2 separate regions of the Homo sapiens genome follow, and region 1 is linked to region 2. The links come from fine-mapping of genetic effects on plasma protein levels. Region 2 holds a variant in brackets. A gene starts in the other region. All regions are shown on their reverse strands. Region 1 holds the start of CD276 (CD276 molecule). Region 2 overlaps MMP14 (matrix metallopeptidase 14).

Evidence for each region. PIP is the posterior inclusion probability: the model's chance that the variant is causal. Protein levels are from antibody-based Olink assays in UK Biobank. Linkage for the fine-mapping came from a reference panel and not from the study's own genotypes, which makes the PIPs less certain.
Region 1: CD276 starts here. The variant in region 2 is fine-mapped to the plasma level of the CD276 protein (UK Biobank, PIP above 0.99).

Annotation. Positions count from the first base shown.
Region 1 is chr15:73,682,825-73,685,722 of GRCh38, reverse strand. CD276 (CD276 molecule) reads right to left here and starts at 1,340. Exons shown (of 10, transcript NM_001024736.2): 1 at 1,263-1,340. RefSeq lists enhancers at 419-925, 1,943-2,451 and silencers at 910-959, 1,120-1,249, 1,260-1,389, 1,510-1,559.
Region 2 is chr14:22,842,186-22,845,083 of GRCh38, reverse strand. MMP14 (matrix metallopeptidase 14) reads right to left here. Exons shown (of 10, transcript NM_004995.4): 4 at 2,367-2,674; 5 at 1,666-1,827; 6 at 1,214-1,374; 7 at 575-713; 8 at 304-454. Among named protein-coding and RNA genes, the nearest start is that of MMP14, 7.0 kb to the right of the region's middle. RefSeq lists enhancers at 1,092-1,592, 1,593-2,093. The variant C/T (reference allele first, on the strand shown) is at 1,699.

The DNA of each region.
Region 1 (2,898 bases), not on the chromosome of region 2:
TCTGGGAGGCCAGAGGGAACTAGAGGAGGCCGCACTAAATAAAGAACTCTCTTAAAGACAAAGCAGCTTCATTACTTTCTAATATAGAAACTAACTGCTGAAGACATGCTTATAAGAAAAGGACCCCGGGCTTTAATGAAGAGATCAGACTCATTTACAATTATCCACATCCAATTTGAAGGTAAATCGTTTTTCTAAATTAAGACAACTAACACCCCCCCACCCGCCACACACACACACACACACACACACACACACACACACACACAAATCTTTTTTGCTTTACTATTTGCTTAATGTTTTCCCTCAGTGATAGATCCCATATCTGAGTCATCTATCACGCTTTTCTCATTAGAGCAGGTTTGGCTTAGAAATAAATCCCCTGCCTTAGGCTGCCAAACCTGCCAATTCGCTAGCTAAACGGTCGCAGGGAGGGCCCTGGGCGCTGGAATTCAATCCCCTCCCTTCTAGTGTGCCCCCACTCGGGGTCCCCACCTCCCTCCACCGTCGCCCGCATCTCCTCTCCATCCCACCTCACCCCCCACCTCCCTGAGGCTTCCCAAGCCCAAACTGCCCATCCCAATTCCCTCCCCACCCCCAACACCTATTCACCCCGTGGCCCCTGCCAGCCGTCTCTACCTGTCCTTCCCGGAATCTGACCCCTCATGCTGCCCACGGCTGCCTGTGGAAGTGCACCAGTCGCCCACACCTTCGCCCTGCTGGGCCCTGCAGAGTGGACACGCCTAACCACTCGCCTTCCCTCCCCGCCGCTCCCCTCCCGGAGCTGGGCGTTTTCCTCTGCAGGACCCGAGACCCCGCTAACCTCCCAGCGCCGGCCGGTGGCTTCGTTAAGCTTCAACACGGGACAGATCTGCCCCCATGCCCGCTCCAGACCCGGGGCCTGCAAAAGCGCATTCACCCACCCGGCCCGGTCCGCAGCTTCCGGGGTCTGCAGGTCCGACGGCGCCCGGGCCCCTCTCAACCCGAGGAAAGGGGGGCGGGGTAGGATCCGGGAGCCCCCAGCTCTCCGCGGGCCCCACAGCCCAGGGCAGGAGGGGCGCCCGCGGTTCCCGGGACTCCTGTGCGAGGGGGGCCGCCCGGACCTGGGGGAGGGCAGGGGAGCAGGAGCCCGGAGGGAAGGCGCCCTGCTCAGCTCCTGCAGCCCTGAGCGGGAACGTGCGGACCTCCGCGGGATCCAGGCCCGGCCCGCAGCAGACAAAGGCCGCCCCACCCCGCGCCGCCCGCGCCACGCCAGCACTCACCGCGCCGCGCCGACTCTGGGACTCAGGGACGCGGCCCAGCCTGGCTCAGTCGCCGCCGCAGCGAGGCCCGGCCCGAATGGGGGCCGGGGGCGGCCCGGGGAGTCCGAGGGGCGGGGCGGGCCGCGCCGGAGAATCCGCCTGAGGCCCGGAAAGGCGGCTCCGGTGCGTCCCTGAGGCCGGATTGGCCCCGCGGTGGCGGCTGCTGACCGAGGCCTGAGCCAGCCCGCTGGGCAGAGCACACGGCCTGGCCCCCGCCCCCGCCCCGCCCCGCCCCCAGGCCTGACCCTGGCGGGGAAAACCCTCGGCTCCCGGAGCAGGGCGCTGCCCATCCCCCACCCCGTTCCCACACTTCCAAGAGCCGAATCTTCCTTTCTGCGAGAGGGGATAGGTGACTGACTGGTCATCGACTGGCGGCAGAACAGGGCTGGAATCCTGCTGTCCAACCCCAGTCTTGGGTTCTTCCTCCACACCATGCTGGCACCACAGCCCAGAAAGGGTTAACTCGACTGCGAGGAATTAAGAGCTGCAAGGAGCTCTCTATAAATACAGTGTCGTGGGCGCCTGAGCCAACCGCAGGACAATTTCCACTGAGCTGGTTTTCCTCTTTTCCTTCCACCCACGGCCATCCGACCAGCCCTGCCCCCAGCCCCACCCCAGACTGCTGGCCGGACTTGGCTCCAACAGGCCTGACACCTAGTGGCCTTGGGCTCTGTCCTTACAGGGCCCCGCTCCAGCCTGGGAGGAGATGGGGGTCGGGCCTGTCCAGATTTTGCTGTGGTGCAGCCCATCCCTGCACCTGTTCTTGGATCTGTTCTTCCTCACAGGGACAGTGACAGCTAAAACGTAGGGAGACTTTTGTGGGCCAGAGTTAGGTTAGGAGCTTTCCATGCTGGGCCTCTTTAGTTCCTCCAAACAGCCCCGCCGGCTAGATATTATTATTCCCATTTCACAGATGAGAAAACCAAGGCTCAAAGGGATGAAGGGACTCCAACCTTGTACTGCTGCCAGGCTCACCACCAGTGCCAGTGGCAGTACTGGGCAGGGCTTGGGAAATGAGTATGAAAACATGTGCGTCTCTCTGCATGTGTTGCCACTGTTGTAAGCTCTTTACCATTTTATCTCATTTAATCTTCACAACAACTCATTGAGGTGAATACCATTATTCTCATTTTTACAGATCGGAAATAAGGAAATTAAGATACAAAGAGATTAAGTAACTTGGGGACACATAGCTATGAAGGGAGGAACCGGGATTTGCCCTCTGAATTTAAGTGTGCGTGTGGTGTATGGGTAGGGGTGGTGGTGCATGGGTGTGTATATTTGTGGGGGGTTTTTGTCTTTTTTTTTTTTTTGAGACAGAGTCTGGCTCTGGAGTGCAGTGGCTCAATCTCGGCTCACTGCAACCTCCGCCTCCTGAGTTCAAGCGATTCTCCTGCCTCAGCCTCCAGAGTAGCTGGGATTACAGGTGCGCACCACTATTTTGGCCAGGATGGTCTCGATCTCTTGACCTTGTGATCCACCCGCCTTGGCCTCCAAAAGGGCTGGGATTACAAACGTGAGCCACCGCGCCCGGCCGGGTGTGTATATTTGTGAACACATTCAAGCAACTCTGTATTTGAGTCTACGTGCATATGTG
Region 2 (2,898 bases):
AAGGGAGGGCCCAGGCTGCAAGGAGCCACCAGTAGCCCTAATGACAGTGCCTGGCTGCTGGGGTGGAGGCGCAGTGCTGGGGGCAGGAGGCGCCAAATGACCAGGTCTGGAATGACCCGGTCACATCCCACTCACACGGTGCCCAAAGGAGGCTGCCCATTTCTAGGCAACAGCAGAGGCTCAGCCAGCTCCTTCTCCAGGGAAGCATGTTGGGGGTAAAGTGGGTCTTTCTCCAGAACTGAGGGAATTTGGGGTGGTGGTGGTTTCTGAGGGAGGCCTGGGGTTAAGGGGTTGAGGTCTTACTTGTTTCCACGGAAGAAGTAGGTCTTTCCATTGGGCATCCAGAAGAGAGCAGCATCAATCTTGTCGGTAGGCAGCCCTCGGCCCAGCTCCTTAATGTGCTTGGGGTAGCCAGGTTCCAGGGACGCCTCATCAAACACCCAATGCTTGTCTCCTGGGGAGGACAGGAGGGCAACGTCTGGGTTCAACTTAGGCTCTAGGGACTTTAGAGGAAATCAGCTCCTCTAGGGAGACCCGCCTCACTCCCAAAGACTAAAGTGGAGTGCCTGGTTACCTTTGAAGAAGACGAATTTGCCATCCTTCCTCTCGTAGGCAGTGTTGATGGACGCAGGCAGGCCCCGCCAGAACTGGCCAATGGGCATTGGGTATCCATCCATCACTTGGTTATTCCTCACCCGCCAGAACCAGCGCTCCTGGAAGCCGGTCAATGCAGGAAAAGTCCATTATGTCTTGCGGCCTAGGTCTCTGGTTCAGTCCCCAAAGCTCCCGCACTGCTGTTTGTTCCTCAGTTTTAGTTTTTAGTCCAGCTGTTGTCACTTCCACCCAGCCGCCCTACCACAGAGTACCCCCCCGCCTTTTTTTTTTTTGAGATGGAGTCTCACACTGTTGTCCAGGCTGGAGTGCAATGGCCCTATCTCGGCTCACTGCAACCTCCACCTCCCAGGTTCACGTGATTCTCCTGCCTCAGCCTCCCAGGTAGCTGGGATCATAGGCGCCCACCACCACACTTGGCTAATTTTTTGTATTTTTAGTAGAGACGGGGTTTCACTATGTTGGCCAGCCTGCTCTCGAACTCCAGACCTCAGGTGATCCACCTGCCTTGGCCTCTCAAAGTGCTAGGATTACAGGCATGAGCCACCATGCCCAGCCCATAGGGCCCTTTTGTCTTTCAAACCAGCCCACTTCTTCTCACCTTGAAGACAAACATCTCCCCTCGGAGCATGGCCACGGTGTCAAAGTTCCCGTCACAGATGTTGGGCCCATAGGTGGGGTTTTTGGGTTTATCAGGAACAGAAGGCCGGGAGGTAGTCCTGGGTTGAGGGGGCATCTTGGTGGGGAACCCTGACTCACCCCCTGGGGCAGAAAACACGAGGGGCATTTCAGACTTAGGAGGAGGCGGGGACGGAAGGACAGACAGATGGGCAGACAATACCCTTGGAAAGGTGTGGATGGGCTTCTAGGGGAGGCTGAAGCAACCAACTGGGAGGCGACACAAAAGATGGGCTCAAAAGTGGAGCTGATAGAGGCAGGGGCAGGTTGGCAGGGGGCGGTGCGGAGACTGCAAGGCATAAAAGAGGGGAAATGCGTAGACCAGGAGGGAACAAGCAGCAGAGGAGGGAGCAGGCGTGGGTGTAGACTACTCGCCATAAAGTTGCTGGATGCCCCGGCGGTCATCAT[C/T]GGGCAGCACAAAATTCTCCGTGTCCATCCACTGGTAAAAGGGTGCCATGATGGCCGAGGGGTCACTGGAATGCTCGAGCCCCAGGGCATGGCCCAGCTCGTGCACAGCCACCAGGAAGATGTCATTTCCTGGAAGGATGGGGACAGTGACGATAGCAGCCTGAGTCCCTTCCCTCAGCCTCCCTGCTTCCCCACCAGCAGCTTTGGTTTCACCTCCAAGCCTGCTGCCCATGTTTTCAATCCAAAGTGGCCAAATTCTGAGGTCTAGCTTTTTATCTGGTATTTAAGCACAAAGCCAGTCAGCAAGCTCCTCTGGGTGGAGGTGAGAGAGTGCTTGGAAGCAGGACCCCGATCCCGGGAAGACCTGTGGTAAGGGAAGCCAAGGCTCTCTCTAGTCCCCAGTTTCTCCCGGGAGCGAGACATGACATCGGTCTGGAAAAGTGGGCAATAAGGATGCTTTGAAGTCTTTGACTGGAAAGCCAGTCAGTGGGTGAGAGGGGGGACCAGATGTAAATAGCTCAAACAGGACTCCTGCTTTTGTCAGAAGTTAGATCAGAAGGTCTCTGTGGTCCCTTCTAGCCCGGAGATTTTGGAAGGAGGGAGGGGAACCACCCCTACAAATGACTGTTGGCTTTTTCCAGAGTAAGTCCCAGGGATACTTGGCTCACCATTCAGATCCTCATTCCTGACAGTCCAAGGCTCGGCAGAGTCAAAGTGGGTGTCTCCTCCAATGTTGGGGCCTGGGAAGTAGGCATGGGCCAGGAAGCCGCCCTCACCATCGAAGGGCGTGCTGTCGCCATGGAAGCCCTCGGCAAAGAAGATCATGATGTCGGCCTGCTTCTCATGGCCCTCACGGATGTAGGCATAGGGCACCTCGCGGAAGCGCAGTGGTGTGGCACTCTCCCACACGCGGAACGCCTTGCGAATGGCCTCGTATGTGGCATACTCGCCCACCTTGGGGGTGTAATTCTGGATGCTGAGGTCCAGCCACGTGGGGAGAGGATGGGGTGTGTTAGGATAAAGAGGGGCAACATTCTCCTTCCCTGCACTCTCCCAGGTCTGACTGCGCGGCCCAGCCACCTCTGCCTGACCCAGCTCTTCCTGCTACCTCATGCGCAACGCCTCTGTCTCAAGAACAAGGGATCCTCAGGCTCTGGCTCTCTGGCACTGGGGTGCACCCTTGATGGCTACACCTCTCTC